Regions from separate parts of the Homo sapiens genome. Here region 1 is linked to region 2. A link means that fine-mapping ties the variant in region 2 to the expression of a gene that starts in the linked region. Tissue or cell type: nasal epithelium. Region 2 holds a variant in brackets; the other region holds the start of a gene. All regions are shown on one strand. Distances are from middle to middle.

Region 1 (8,104 bases), 380 kb before region 2:
GACCAAGCTGGATTAGAATTGGGTTGATTCATTTGCTCAGTATCTTTGGAGCGCCCCTGTGAGCCCAGCACTGTGTCAGGCTCTGGGAGATATAACAGTGAACGAGATGGGGAAGGTCCTGCTCTCATTTTAACGGAGGGAAGTCAGTCAAGAAAAAAAAAAAAGATCTAAGTGAGCAAAATAGGTTTAGATAGAGAGATAGAGGTAAATGCTAGTGGACAAGACAAAACATGCAATCATGATTGTGACTTGGGACTTCTCAGATTGGGCGGTCTGGGAAGGCCCCTCTGAGGGGGCTGTACTTGGGCTGAGACCTGGAGGCTGTGAAGAGGCCAGCCTAGTTGGCGAAGGACAGAAAGGCCAAGCTGGGGGTCTTAGATCTGACAGATGGCTTAGACCCCCAGTCGTCCTCTGGGGGAAGAGCTGCTTTTTAAAAAATTTTCATTTTCATACATTGACAGGGAGTTGCTTTTTATTTTCCAGGGATGTTAAGATCATGGAGGGCAGGAGAAGCGAGAACTCCATGGCGGTTGTGGAGTCCCGTTATGGAAGTGGGACGTGGGAGCCAATGTGAAAGCTCCCGAGCAGAACTGGGAGAGGACACGCCCCAGAAAACTTCAGAAGGTGATGACAGCAATCAGCTTGGAGGGCCTAGCAGAGACTGATAGCACTAGGAGGAGTAATAATAATAGCACATAAGAATATTAGCAGTACTATTCGATAATATTTAAGGAACTTTTAAAATATACCAAGCATTGCCAAACACTTTGGAAGTATAATATTAACTCATTTAGTCCAGGCAGTGGGTAGAATTTGTATCCCCATTTTAATAATGAGAAAAGTGAGGCTTAGAGAGGTACAGTAATTTACCCAAGATTGCACAGCTAAGATCTGGTGGAGGCATGCACACAGGGCCCTCTGACCATGGGCTCTAAATCACTGTACTATGTTCCCTTCCATAGGCCTCAATCAGTCATGTAATATTTGACCTGGTCGTTATCTTAGGTATTATCTAGACCACAGATTTTGGATGCAGTTCTCTGGCTGAAGACCTCTGAGCTAGGATAACCCCTTCTCTTTTGACAGACGAGTCAGAGAATCAGATCAGTGATAGAAGTGGAGTGCCAATCCTGAGTATCACCTCTACTCAAGTGCTCAACATATCCCTAGATCCTCAATTCCCTGGCAAAAGTGATTGGATGGAACCACAGGCTTCCAAGAGGGGACAGTCAAGCATTAAATACGAGAATGCACATATAACTCTTGGTGCAATGTTTAGCACATACTAAGCCTGCAATACATGCTAATCCCTTTGAGCAAATCCACATGGCCAGTTTCTGTGCTCAGGGGTGAGAATAGCTGGGCTGTGATTGGGGCAGGGGGAGCACTAAGTGGGAGGGACTTCCTGTCTCAGGTCCCTGCCATCTTGACTGACATGCTGCAGCCCTTGCCAAAACCCATGGGTCAGAATGAAAGTAAAGTGCCGTTGAAAACCTTGCAATCCACCTTTAAAACTGCCGGGTGTAGTAAAACAATTGCTTGCCCCAAATAAATGACTTATCATTGCTGTTGGTTGTCTGCGTTTCTCTTTAATTATAGGCCCTCTTTGAACGCTCAAACACACAGGGCCTTTGTAAGCTTGAACTCCCTGTCTCACACACAGTCCTCCCATACCCATACACTCTCTTTCATTTGCAGAGTATAAACACCCATCTCTCACTCATTCACATAATGAATTTCAGCTCCTTGTGTCCCAATCAAGGAGAGGCCTCACTGGAATTATGGGCATCTGAGCCATCTTCATGTTCCAAGGCCCCAGGGGGCGCTTCCAAGAGTGGATCCTTTATGGGGAGAAGATAATGGGCAAAAAGTGCTCTTCACTGATGGACCAGTCCCAGCCTTTTCTCTCCTTGGACAATAGAGTTCTTCCCTTGAACAGCCACTTCCCTAAAAAAAATTCCAAAATTCTCCCACATCATCCCCTTTATGCTTAAAATCATCACACACTCCCTTCTTTGTCCTCCCCTCTTGCAAACTCAACTCAGAGCCCTTTGGCTCCAGAAAGATTTTCTAGGTATCAGGAGAGAGTAGCAAAGCCTCCCTCCTCTCCTTGCCTTTCTCCCTTGTCAGAGAAAGAAGTTGATTCTGCGGAGAGGTAAGAAGGATCTTGAGGTCTAGAGCCTGAAAAACTCCTTGGGCTGTTCTCCAAACTAGATGGGAACATAAGGTGCGATTGCATCTTCTCCAGCTGATACTCACTCGGCCTCCTATGCCAGTCCCCAGTCCAGGGTTTGGTCAAGGGTCAAATGAGATAATTTCATGGAGGAAGCCTGGCCCGATTTTTCTACTGTTTGCTGGAAGACAGCCTCTTCCTCTTGTAACTGCAGCCCCAGAACCTGATCTCCACATCCCTGCCAGGCAGGTAGCTGTGTACAAGGGCTCATCTTCCTGCCCCCAACCCCAGCTCTGATTTGCTTATTCAGGTGGTGTAAATACTTCTACCAGGACCTATTTCAAGCCATTGTGATGTCCCTGACTGGGGAGATGCAGGGCAGCACACCATTTAATATTTCCCTCACATTTCCACCCCATTCTGCACTCTTTTCTGGGAGTTGCTGTCTCAGAGGGTTGGCGGTTCTGGTGGCTCAAGACCATAAGTAATTATCAAATACTTAGGAAGCGACGGGTTTTGAGTATTTATTACCTTTTAAAAATGTACTTTGTGGCTAGGCATGGTGGCTCACGCCTGTAGTCCCCGCACCGGGAGGCCGAGGTGGGTGGATTGCTTGAGCTCAGGAGTTCAAGACCAGCCTGGGCAACACGGCGAAACCCAGTCTCTACCAAAAATACACACACACACACACACACACACACACACACACACACACACACACAAATTGGCCTAGCGTGGTGTCGTGTGTCTGTGGTCGCAGTTACTCAGGAGACCAAGGTAGGAGGTAGGAAACCAAGGTAGGAGGATCACCCGAGGTCGGTAGTTCGAGACCAGCCTGACCAACATGGAGAAACCCTGTCTTTACTAAAAATACAAAATTAGCTGGGCGTGGTGGTGCATGCCTGTAATTCCAGCTACTTGGGAGGCTGAGACAGGAGAATGGCTTGAACCCGGAAGGCGGAGTTTGCGGTGAGCTGAGATCGCGTCATTGCACTCCAGCCTGGGCAACAAGAGCAAAACTCCGTCTCAAAAAAAAAAAAATATATATATATATGTGTGTGTGTGTGTGTGTGTGTGTATGTATATATATATATGTATGTGTATATATATGTATGTGTGTGTGTGTGCATATATATATATACACTTTGTTTAATTGTAAGTGTGTTTAGTTTAATTTTTAATAATGTCCGTGATTAACAGCTGGCTGGCAAGATTCCTGAGAACTGAAGAGTTTGCCCCAGCCCATCCAGCACACCATGGGCCCAGGGCAGACCTTGGGGCTAGGCGGTCTTGGGTTCCAGAGGGCTCCCATGCCCCTGTCCTATTGCTCTTCTGGCAATAGGACATTTACGCGGGGGGGGGGGTGGTTCTTGATTCTGGGTCTTTTAGGGGACTCTGTGATTAAGAAACAGCAGGGATGTTGCAACAGCAGGGATGAGGTGGGCCTGGGGACGGGTCAGTGAAGGGTCTTCATTCCTAGCTGCTGACCTGATCTGCCCTGAGATAAAAGACTAAGACCCAGAGAGTGAACGCTGTCCGCGGGGGCAGAAGCGAGTGAGGCGTCGGGACAGTGGGGCATAACCAAGAGCAAAACGCAAACTGAGACTTCAGCGCCGGTTTCTCGGGCCAGCCCACGCCTCCTGCCTCAGCTCAATGCCACTCCCTCCCCGCCAAGTGGCTCTCCGCTCTGGAGGCGGGACCGAGTTCTCCGGTGGCCCCTGGAGGCTCCGGCAGCGAGCTCTGGGAGGCTGGGAGGGGAGTGAGGGGAGGGGCGCTGACTGGGCCGTCCAAAGAGGAGGGGGCCTTTAATAGGCTCGCCCAGCGCCTGGCTTGCTGCGCTGCGAGTGGCTGCGGTTGCGAGAAGCCGCCCGGCACCTTCCGCTAGTTCTCGGCTGCAAATCTTCGTCCTTGCACTTGACAGCGATTGTACTTAAGCTCCCAGGGCGCGCTTTGCTTGGAAAGGCACAGGTAGGAAGCGCGGGCTGCCGGGTGCACGCTCGCCGCCCTGGGAGGAGTCTCCCTCCCTTGGCTCTCCTTTCTGGGAACTGCCGGCTGTCCCGTAGCGTTGGCGGTTCCAGAGTGCGGGCTGCACGGAGACCGCGGCAGCGGCCGGAGAGCCCGGCCCAGCCCCTTCCCACAGCGCGGCGGTGCGCTGCCCGGCGCCATGCTTCTGCTGGGCATCCTAACCCTGGCTTTCGCCGGGCGAACCGCTGGAGGCTCTGAGCCAGAGCGGGAGGTAGTCGTTCCCATCCGACTGGACCCGGACATTAACGGCCGCCGCTACTACTGGCGGGGTCCCGAGGACTCCGGGGATCAGGGACTCATTTTTCAGATCACAGCATTTCAGGAGGACTTTTACCTACACCTGACGCCGGATGCTCAGTTCTTGGCTCCCGCCTTCTCCACTGAGCATCTGGGCGTCCCCCTCCAGGGGCTCACCGGGGGCTCTTCAGACCTGCGACGCTGCTTCTATTCTGGGGACGTGAACGCCGAGCCGGACTCGTTCGCTGCTGTGAGCCTGTGCGGGGGGCTCCGCGGAGCCTTTGGCTACCGAGGCGCCGAGTATGTCATTAGCCCGCTGCCCAATGCTAGCGCGCCGGCGGCGCAGCGCAACAGCCAGGGCGCACACCTTCTCCAGCGCCGGGGTGTTCCGGGCGGGCCTTCCGGAGACCCCACCTCTCGCTGCGGGGTGGCCTCGGGCTGGAACCCCGCCATCCTACGGGCCCTGGACCCTTACAAGCCGCGGCGGGCGGGCTTCGGGGAGAGTCGTAGCCGGCGCAGGTCTGGGCGCGCCAAGCGTTTCGTGTCTATCCCGCGGTACGTGGAGACGCTGGTGGTCGCGGACGAGTCAATGGTCAAGTTCCACGGCGCGGACCTGGAACATTATCTGCTGACGCTGCTGGCAACGGCGGCGCGACTCTACCGCCATCCCAGCATCCTCAACCCCATCAACATCGTTGTGGTCAAGGTGCTGCTTCTTAGAGATCGTGACTCCGGGCCCAAGGTCACCGGCAATGCGGCCCTGACGCTGCGCAACTTCTGTGCCTGGCAGAAGAAGCTGAACAAAGTGAGTGACAAGCACCCCGAGTACTGGGACACTGCCATCCTCTTCACCAGGCAGGTGAGTTGATCTGCCGTCACTTTGCACCCAGATAGTCCCGTTCTTTAGGGTCACCTCCCCTAGCGCTCCAAATCCCCTTTGTATCGTGCAATGCCTCCGAGTTTAAACCTCGTTGATCTCTTCCGACTCCAACTCTGTGGAGTTTCCAGGGAGAGCCCTCTCCCACGCTCCGCGGAGCGGCGGCTCACGTGCATCTGGGCCATTGGAGGAGAGCCTGCGCTTTCCGAAGGTGTTGGCCTGGCGCGGCCAATCAGCGCCTCCTGGATCAGGCGCCGAGGGGCCGGAACCCAGGAAGTTGCCGCCCCGGAGCTGCAGTTTGTGTCCAAGACCGATAGGAGACGCCGTGAGGATGGTGTTGGAGAGGGCGGGAACGGCCCACCCCTATTGTATGGGCGGCTGAGTCTTCTCGGACACCTCCTGAGGTCTCCTTTCAAGGGTTGTAGAACTGAAGGTGATCCAAGGTCAGCGCTTGCTACATTTCTCTCGGGTAACACGTTGTCCCCTCTCTGTACTGGGCCTGGAAAGCCTGGATTGGGGTGGAGGGAATCATTGAGAGATTTTGTGGGTTGCAGTGACAGGCCAGACTCAAGTACTGCGAGCATCCCTCCTTCACTGCCGCTTCTCCTACAGACTTCTCTGCTGGGCATGGTCCAAGAGGCTTCTAGACCATTCTGAGCAGGCGGTGTAGTTAGGGCACCTGTTTGGAGCTGAGACTGTTTCACTTGGAGTTTCAAGTGGAGTTTTACTTGGAGCTGAGTTGGGAAAATCTCTTCCAATTTTCCTGTATCCTTGCTGTCAGAGGGTGACCCGTTTGCCCAGATGTATACTACAGAGCAGAGCGGGCATGCTTGCTCCTGCTCCCAAGTCACTAAAATTCCTATGACCACACTTGACTTCAGGGCTCTAGCTTCTGCCCTTGCTGGGGTGGAAGTGGTGTGAGCTTAGTCAAGAGTATTTGGAGATTCCAGCTGTAGAGTTAGAAGGAAACTGAGTATTGGGATTAGAAAGATGGACCCAGCCCAGGAAGCAGCCCTGCCTTTTGCAAGGCCTTTCCTGATATTCTATGTCAAAGAAGCTACAAATCTGCAAACGTTTAGATTCACAGGTGTTGGAGTGATTGGGCACTGAGGAGTATTTGGATTCTTGAAATTTCTCAGATACAGGAGGCTGGGAGGAAAAGAGCCATCCAAGTGAGCCTCTTCTTCTGATTTGGGGGACTGTGACTTGAATCTGTGCCATGCTCTTTTTTTTGGTTATTATCATAACCACAGCACTCTGGGGATGGCGTGGAATCCTTGGTTACCTGTGGGGCTCTAACTCTCCACTGTTTCCAAATGGTCACTCAAAGTTGGACTGGCGCACACAGTCTGGAGCTGGAGTCTTCCACAGTAACCCATTTGGCACAGCTAGTCCCTTCCTGGAGTCGAACTTCCTCTGTTCCCAGCCTTCTTCTCCTCCCACCACCTGGTTTCTCTAGGGAGGTCTTTGGCCTGAGTCTGTTTCCTTGTGCTCATTCTTCCAACTGAGGTCTGTTGAGCTGCCACTGCCCAGCCTCTGCAAGCACTGCCTGAGTCATGGGGAAGCTGCAAAGGAGGTGGCTTTGACCTCTGCACACAGACCAGCTTGGCAGTTAGATTGCTGGGGCTTGAAAAAAAGCAAAGGCCAAGAACAGGATATCTTAATGGGCAAAGCAGCTGTTGCCCCATTCGTTACCTGGGCTGCCCCAGTGCAGGTCACTCACTGGCTCCAAAATAAAAGACCTCAGCCTCTGCAGCCTGGTGGTGAAGGCTGGCTTCTGGAGTCAGCCCTAGGAGAAGAACTCCTGCTGGGAATAGGGACCATGCCGTCAGAAGGAGGCCGCCTTTTGAAGAAGAAGCAATCAAACAGCATGACAGCTTCTATTTCTCAGTGGTGTGTGCTCAACCCCCCGGGGGCTGTGTTGTCCATGCATAATGGGTACAAGATGCATGACCACTGGATCAGAAGCAGTGATGTGCAAAATGTGACTTTTAGAAGCTGCCTTCCCCTTAGGTGCCTAGAGAGCAAAGCTAGAGAGTGAGGCTTCTGTGTGGTCAGGGCCACCATCAAGGTATGTACTTTATGCTTCAGAGGAAACCCCTCTTCCCCACCTCCTCAGCAGCTCAGACTTCAGGGCCTACTGCATTCTGAGAGTCTCAGGATCTTCTCACTCCTGATATCTCTGGGGGAAGGTACAGTATTTGATGAGAACAGGAGGGAGTAGCTGCCCTTTCTAAGATTAAGGCAGATGCGGTCTCCGGGAACCTTAACTGCCCGGAAAGGAGAATATAGTGGTTATACAACAAGTATTTTGACAATTTGAGGAGTTTACTTACAGATTCAGAATAAGTTCATGGAGAAAAGTGCACATCTGATTTTGCAAAGTGATCGGTCTCCAGGCTCATAACAGCAGGGTGAGGTCAGCACAGGACTGGAACCAGGATCTGCGAAGAACTAGAGCCAGAGTGTTTCTCATTTATTTCTATGAGGAGAAAAGTTTCTTTGGCTTCTTGTTGCATTGGGCGGCAGGAGCCAGGTATTTAATGCCGAGACTTGGTAGGCCCTCCCTCATTCCCTGAGACTTCTCTGTCTTTAGGTCCAATAACGCTGCCGTTTGGGTGACCCTTTGTGGTAGAATGGCTTTCATTCATTTATTTGTACACTCTTTTAATACTTGTTGAGCATTACTTATTATTATTTCTAGGTACTACCCTGGGCTGTGGAGCTACAAATTGTAATAAATTGTGGCCTTGGCCGGGCGCAGTGGCTCACGCCTGTAATCCCAGCACTTT
Region 2 (8,104 bases):
TGTGTGGGGGGAAGCTAAAATTACTTAGATCATGTAGGGCTGCGCTTTGAGGTTCTCTGGAGCAAGGCTTGTGATGCCTGGGACAGCAGAGCTGGCAACAGCGGGCCCAGTGCCCTCAAGCCCCTGCTTCCTGCCTGTTTCTCTGGAAGTCAGCTGAGCTTCATGGCCACCCTAGAGCACAGCCTTGGAGCCCCTCTCCGCACACGTGGGTGTGCTGCCTGTCTCGGGTTAGCCATGGCCCATGAAGCTATCTCTGACTCCTGAGCAGCCAGACGTGGGGTGGGGTGGGGTGGCAGGGTGGGAAACCTCCCAGTCACCAACAGTGACCTTGGTGAGGCGCTGGGGGTGAGTCAGATCCTCCTCACAGACTACACACGGCTGCCACCTCCTGGAACTTGCCATAACCCAGGCAACTCTCAGATCCTGGGCCTTCACTTGTGATGTCAGGGATGGGGGCATTGCAAAGGAGGGAGGCGGGGACAATGGCTGGATGTTACCTGCTCTCTACTCTGGAAACCCAAGGCTGGAGGCTGCTGCAGCTCTGGGCGCCCTGGGGGCTTCTGCCAGCCCCGCCTGGCTTCCCTCTTGGAACAGAATGGAATCCTCACAGGTTTATAAAACCAAGCCTGATTTCAGGAAAGGGGGTGTCCTTTGGGGCACCTTTGATTTATCCTGCCATCCTCATCCACATCATGCCCCACAAGAAGCCCTTTCTCTCTGAGCCGAGGTGCTGTCACAAGCTGTTCAGAGGCCCCCATGCCCTAGTACCTCTGAGACAAGCAGTTGCTGTGGCAAAGGAGAGGCACCAAACAAAGACACTGGCCCTCTCTAAAGACTCTTGGTGACTCTAGAGCCAGAAGTCAACAGTGGGATGGACAGATCATCTCCAGCTCCTGTCTTCAAAACGCACCTGTGTTTTAACGGCTCCCCAGGGAAGGAGATCCAGTCACTGGCTAACATTCTGCGATGGTGTCTGATAGCCCTCACCAGCTCCAGAATGTTCCTATCCCTCTTAGGCTTTCTTTTTGTATCTTCATCACTCTGACGTTGGTGCGCTTTCAGGCCCTGTTTGCTGCAACCCTGACTGGAACCTCCACATTTAAGTTCCTAATGAAATCTTCTCTTTGACTTTTGCTCATTTATAAAACTTTGTGCCAGCTCTTGGGGTCCAGAGAAATCAGTTTCTAGACCAAATGCCAAGTGCCATCTCCCAAATCTGCAGGTGAGGGTAGTCACTAAAATGCCAAGTGACCTGTCTGCAAGCCGACAGCTGAGGGTGACCTTGCTGGCTGGGCTAGGCCAAATGGGCTCCGGCGTTCAGTGTGTCTCATTTCTCTGCTATTTGACCTGGTTCACATTTGGCTGCGGGGATTGAGCCCAGGCAGTGGGCCCAACTCAGCGGTGTCCTCTGGCCTCTGCACAAGATCTTTATCATGAAGCTAGGCAAGGGCTGTATAATCCTTTCCGTTACTTCAGGGTAATGGTCGAGGTAGGAAGGAGCTCTGGGTGACCTGCCTGGAAGAACAGGTTGAGGTTTATAAGGTTGATTTCAGTAGGTTTTGGGGTTTAATGGGTAGGGAAAGGAGAGGGGCTGGCTGATGATGGCCAGGCCATAGCACTGAAGTCCAAAGACCCAAGGTATACAGAGGTCAAAGCTTCAGGTTGGGCAGGAAATTTGTGCAGGCCAGCCTGGAGAGCATTCTTAAGTCTTGAGGATGGTACATTCCCCAAGGGCAATGACCACTTCGTAAATGTATTTTCACTCCCTTAGAAAACTCAGCACAGTACTGTCACATAGTATACAGATGATGGTCAAGAGCACTGAGTTCCAAGCCCTGCTCTAGGATTTAGCCTTGTGACTTGGGCGAGTTAATTAAATTATCTTCTCTGTGCCTCAGTGGGCTCGTTTGTTAAATGGAGATAATAATAGTACTTGCCTTACATGACTGTTACAAGGATTAAATGAGAGGATAAGCAATTATAGCAGTGTCTTGCTAATAGTATTAGGCACACAACAGGTAATGATTGAGTGAACGGCTAAAATTCAGATGGAATTATATTGCAGGAGGACTAAATTCCTAGTTTGAGGCTGTTTATCTCCAGTGCTTGATTTCTGGTATTTGTCACCTATTTTATATGCTAGAGAGTTTTATAATTATTTAAATCATGTCACCAAGACAGCCTGGAAGAAACTAGTACATGTATTGAAACCCCTTCCACCTCGAGGCTGGAAGCTGGGGCCAGGCAAGCACTGCCGCCACGTTCGCCACACACGTTTAAGTTCAGGGGCTGAAATGTGCAATTTTTTGCTGTTGATGGAGCTACAGCTGCCTGGACAGACCTAGGCTACACTGTTCAGCCCCGTGCTGCAGCTGGCTCCTCTCATGACCAGAGGCCAACATACATCCCATGGTTTGTTAGGGTCAGGGCAGCCACCTGGGGCCACAGACCAGAATGCTGCTCACTTATCTCCTTGGGGATTTGCATTTAGCCCTTGGCCTTGCTGGCCCTCTGCTCTGGCCACCTGAGAAAGCTGGCACAAGACAACAGGAAATTGGAAGCTATGTCACAGGTCAGGTGTCCAGGGAAAGGCCTGAAGGTGACCACCCTGGGTGTCATGTGGAGGGAAGGGAGGACACCCTGGCAGGAAAGCCTGGACTCAGCTTGGGCTGTAGCCAACCCCTCTCTCTTCAAAGCACCCACCAAAAAAGCTGTAACAGAGCAGAATGGCTGGGCCTCTCTCACCCCTTCCTTTCCCGCACTGAGCTCGCCTGTGCACCGGCCTCAGGACTCGCCTGCCAAGTCCCTTGGCTTCCCTCCGCAGTCTGTGGAATCTGAGCAGGATGATCCCTGGCCCAGCTGTTAGGAATCATTTTGAGGATGAAAACAATTAAGCTGGGCAAGAAGCCCACCACCGAATCCTGCCCCCTTTTTTGCACCCTTGCCCATTGTTCTCCTTCACCCCTTTCCGGGTCACCTTTTCTATCTATCCACGAACCTGCTGAGAACATTCACTGACAGTGTGCTGGCTTTGGAGGCACCCGCCCAACCCTGTGGATTTGGAGATCCTGGGGTGTGGGAGGAAGGGGTAACCGGATTCTGGAAGCATCTCCCCCCACAGGAGGCTCGGCCAGATTCAGCCAAAGTGCTGGCCATCTGTGTAACGTTGCTAAGCAGTGTCCTTTCCTGGACTTGTCCTCCCTGCCCTCTGGGCATCAGAACTCTTGGTGCTGAAGTAACAGATATGCACACTGAGGCATGTCTAAGGAAGGCTGTGAGCCATTTATCCATCCACCCTAGGCAGCCCTTCAGGCTCTGCAGGCCAGAGAGCTCACTGCTGCATCTGAAGAAGTTCCTCAGATATTTTGAATGTTCCCTGCAAGGGCAGGACTAGCTGAAGGAAGTGCTAGACAGGGTCCTGGGGCTCTGGACTCCAGCCTGCGAGCCAGGCAAGGGGATGACGGCAGCATCTTTGGTCTCTGGTGCTCCACATGGCTCCTGAACTCCTCTGGACGGTGTCTGTCTCTCCTGCCCCCCAGGCCACTGTGTTCTTCCCGCTGCTGTGTCCTGGTATCTAGGACCATGCCTGGCACACAGTAGGCTCTCAGCAAATTTGTCTCACTAAGGCTGACAATGCCCACTTTCTGCAGCAGGGCCAGCATCCTTTCTTCACGTTAAGGCGTTGCTATTCCTTCTTCACCTGGGTTATTTGCCTTAAGTATCAAAGTCCTAAGCTAAAGAAACAAAACGCTAAGGTGGATGATTTCAGGCATCGACAAGGGAGAAGAAGGCCTGTCTTGGGGAGGAGGTGACAATGGGAGCTTCGGGAAGACAGAGAATGCCTGTGAGGCTCAGCTCCCCAACTGTCCCTAGAACTTCTTCATTATCTCTGTGGCCCCAGGAAAGGGACCCAGAGGCTGGCCCATGCCCAGTGTGAAAGCTGGCAGCAGGCGTGCAGGGGGAGGGGGGAAAAGCAGCCCGAAGTGCATTTCTCAGTGCATTTCTCAGCA[C/T]ATCACCTTACTCTGATCCACCCTGTTGGTGAGGGCGGCTGCCCCGCCCACCTTCACAGCTGCCGGGGTGTGGCTGGGGAGGGGAGCCTGGGCTGTGAGAACAGATGATTTCAATTTAAGCAGCATTTGGGGAGAGTCCTGTTCCACTTGCTCATTTTTCTTAGCACTCCCCCCACCCCTGCTCCGAAACTTGATTCAATCAGTGGTGGATGGGAAAGGCCCGTTTCCATGACAACCCCACTGTGAGAGAGAAAAATCAGCCACAGAGCAGGCTAGAATTTTATCTGGAAGAGGGCACTTGGGTAGGTTTAGAAATGGAGGCCCAGCAAACAGTGCGATGGGCTCGCATCCCATGGTGGGACCTCGGACCCTGGAGAAGGCATGGAACACGGGGTGCCATCAAGGATGTTTATGCTCAGAGAGACACACCTGCTCGTTGCCTGGTTTCCATTAAACCTGCCTGATCTCTCTGGGCTCCAGTCCTACCGCTTGGGTTTATTTTCATGGCTGATGTAACCCAACCAGACTGATGAGTCTGGATCTTTCTCTTTTTCGTACAGTGCTTCCTGTTTAGTTAAGCGTGTTCAATATTTCTGTGCACATTCATTTCCCATCTGATGTTTCCAAAGATGACTGTGGTCTCGATTTCATCTTCCAAGGCGAATGCTCTGGAGCCCAAGGACCCAGATGTGTTGATAGAAAGCATGGTGTGGACATCGTTCACAAAGTTTCGATCCAAAGGGAGGGGATCTTTGGGAAAGATTAAGGGTTTCAGTTCAATCTCTACACCCTTTTAGAGTTGTAGAAGTTGAGTTTCTAAGGAGAAATTATTGGCTGGACGTAGTGTCCCAGCCTGTGTCCAGAATGAGATGTTCAGGAAAGGTGTTTCTAGGAGGGACGTTGCTCTGAAAATGTCCAAGTCTGGGCTTGAGGACTCAGGATACATTGACCCCTATCATTCTCTGAGATTCTCAGTCTGCTGGTTTCCTTGCAGATCTATATGCCAGCCCAGCTCTGGGCCTGGCAGAACTCATGGCCCTAGGTTTGGAAAAATCCCCAAATGTAATCTCCTCCAAGGGTTTTGCCCTTCACTCTGAACTCCATGGGGCCTTTTAAAGTAGATTGAATCCATATGTTTCTGATTCATTTACACTTAACTCATCAGAATGTTCCTTTTTTTTAAATGCGTGATTTGTTGTCTTAAGATGCCTTTGCAGTCTTGTTTATAAGTGCTTCTTTCGCCTTTAGAAACAAGATACTATGTCTTGTCAAGGCATGTGTTGGGGTGGCTGTAGTAGAGACCTTCTAGTTTCAGGTCTGAGTCTCATTTTGGTTCCTAAGAGGAAATGCACTATTTTTGCAGAGCTGCTTGGTTTGAGTGTTAAAAGATTTCATTTACGCTCTGAGCATGGGTTTGACAGGAAATATTTTTACTCCTTCCCTTAGGTTGGAAACTCAGTGAACGCCGCTTCTGAGTAGCAAAGAAACCTTGGGAAAATTACTTAATCCTTTTGGTCCTCCAGTCTTTCCTCTGTAAACTGGGGATGAAAATACCCCCACATCACAGGGCTGTCATGGCAATAATGTACTTCAAGATGTTATAAAAACATGAGTCATAGAATTAGCTGGGGTTCCTCTAAACAAGCCCATGCATTGCTCTAGCCTTTCCTTCATATGTCATCCCTTGGGTCCGCTTTACTCCAATTAATACATCGAGACTCAACCCAAACATCACATAGTCTAAGATCTTCCTTGTATATCAGCCTTGACCCCCGAAGAACAGTCCGTCAGTCTCTCCCCTGTGTCCATGCAACATCTTACCCATGTCTCTATCCTCCGACTCATCACTTGTTAGCAATTTGTTTATATAGCCCTATTTTCCCTTTATAAAACTGAGATCTCCTTGAGGGCAGGAAAATTATATTCATCTTGGTATTTCCAAAGACATGGACAGAGTCTGGCTCATGGAGGGGCTCAATAATAGTTGAAAATAAGAAAAAAAGACAGCAAAGGGAATACAATGCTATAAATTCTTTTGGGAAATCAGGATGAATCCGGTTAACTCCACCTGGCTTTGTAAGAAGTGAGGCTAAGGAGAAAGTAATTAGTAAGATTTCTCCTTTTTTCTGTAAGAACTGTTAATGCCAATTAGAGGGCAGCTTCCAAAAACCACCAGTAGCAACAGCACACTTCTTCAGTAACTATATCAGCTCCTTTGGTCACGCCCAAGTTTTTGAGACAAAACTAGAGATACCCAACCCATAGGGTCATATGTAATAATAAATATCAAGGTCCTACAGTAGAATTCCAAGCTATTTCCTTCTTTAAAGTATATCATGTGTAATGGGAAAGAGGAAAGTCTTTTCCCATTTTATGAAGGATTTTATTGTCAACACTGGTCCTCAATCCAACACTCTCTCTCAATCCATAACCTATGAGCATAGCCTTGGAGAAATAAAAAATAGGTCCATATAAATCCAACATTCAGAGTCATTGAATGTTAGATATGTAAAAAGCAAAGTGTGACTGCTAGTCACTGTAGGTCTTGGGGCAGCAAAGAAGCATTGAAAAGATCCCTGCCTTTGAGTATTGGTTGTAGATAAAGAGGCACAGCTAACTGCATGGCAGAGAAGATTCTGATAATTGCTAAAACAAAGGAACAAAGCATGGATACAGAGGAGGGAAAAGTACCTATGACCAGTTTAATCTGGGAAGGCTTCATGGGGGAAAGGTGGTAACATTTGACCTGAACTTTGAAATACAGCTAGAACTTGACAGATGGTAATAGAGAGAGCTTCCAGACAAAGAGAATAACCACCTGAACATAGTTCATAAGGTGGACATGTGCAGAGCATATTTTATGAACATCAAACAGACCAGGCTGGAGTGTATAGTTACTGGAAGGAACAGTGAGAAATTAGGCCAGAAAGATAGGCTTGAGCTTGAAGTTAAGGACTTAAGACTTTATATCACTATTTTTTATTATGGAATGACTTTTTCAGAACTATGGTATAGAAAGATCATCCAGGCCACAGTGTAATAATAATAGTCATCCTTTATTGAATACCTGCTATATTCAAGCAACCATTCTAACTGATTTATATGAATTAATTCATTTCATTGTCATTTCAATCTATGAGGTAGATTATGTCCCATTTTACAGATGAGTAAAATGAGGCACAGATAGGCTGGGTGACCTTCCCAAGTCCAAACTGCCAGAAATCAATAGAACCAGAATTCAGATCTTGATTTTTGGCCCCAGACCCCATGCCCTTAACACTTAACACTCTCATAGCAAAGAAGCAGAAAGCAGGCAATTAGAAGCTATTTCAGTATCCAGTAACAAGTTCTGAGGGCTGAATGGAAACAGTGGTTTAGAAAGAGAAAGAAAACATGTATGAATGACATAGTAGAGGCACTGCCCCCAGTTTGCTGTGGAGTGGAGGATGGTGAAGGAGAGCAGAGTCAGAGAAGACTTTGTGGCTTGGGATTTGAACCACAAAAGGCAAAGTAAATTTCAATGGGAAGGTGAAGGGTTCAGTTTTGAACATGTGGAACATAATACACATGTGATACTATCTTGCAAAATGTTGGAAGTGTGGGCTGGAGAAAGTTTGCAGCTACAGATGTTGAAACATTGTGGGAATCATTGAAGCCAGAGTAGGTCAGGCCATCAGGAGAAGCACAATCTCTTTGATGCCTTGTAAGATAAACTCTCATCATTTTTCTTTTTCTGGTTACTCAAGGTATAAAATTCAGTTGTTGATTTGAGATCTTTCTTTTTTCAAATGTGAATACTTATGGCTACAGATTTTTCTCTTTGCACTGCCTTCACGGCATCCTATAAGTTTTGGTATGTTGTATTTTCATTTTCATTTATCTCAAGGTATTTTCTAATTTCTCTTGTGATTTTGTCTTTAACACATATGTTGTTTAAGAGTGTGTGTTTAATTTCCACATATTTGTAACTTTCCAGTTTTCCTTCTACTATTGATTTCTAGTTTTATCTTATTGTGGTTAAAAAAGATATGTTGTGTGACTTCAATAATTTTAAATCTGTTATGTCTTGTTTAAATCTGTTATGACCTGAAAAA

Evidence for each region. PIP is the estimated chance that this variant, and not a neighbour inherited with it, causes the effect.
Region 1: ADAMTS15 starts here. The variant in region 2 is fine-mapped to the expression of ADAMTS15 in nasal epithelium (TOPMed, PIP above 0.99).

The regions. Positions count from the first base shown.
Region 1 is chr11:130,444,637-130,452,740 of GRCh38, forward strand. ADAMTS15 (ADAM metallopeptidase with thrombospondin type 1 motif 15) reads left to right here and starts at 4,009. Exons shown (of 8, transcript NM_139055.4): 1 at 4,009-5,294. The coding sequence starts at 4,338. RefSeq lists an enhancer at 6,978-7,479.
Region 2 is chr11:130,827,599-130,835,702 of GRCh38, forward strand. No RefSeq gene overlaps it. Among named protein-coding and RNA genes, the nearest start is that of LINC02551, 30 kb to the right of the region's middle. The variant C/T (reference allele first, on the strand shown) is at 4,011.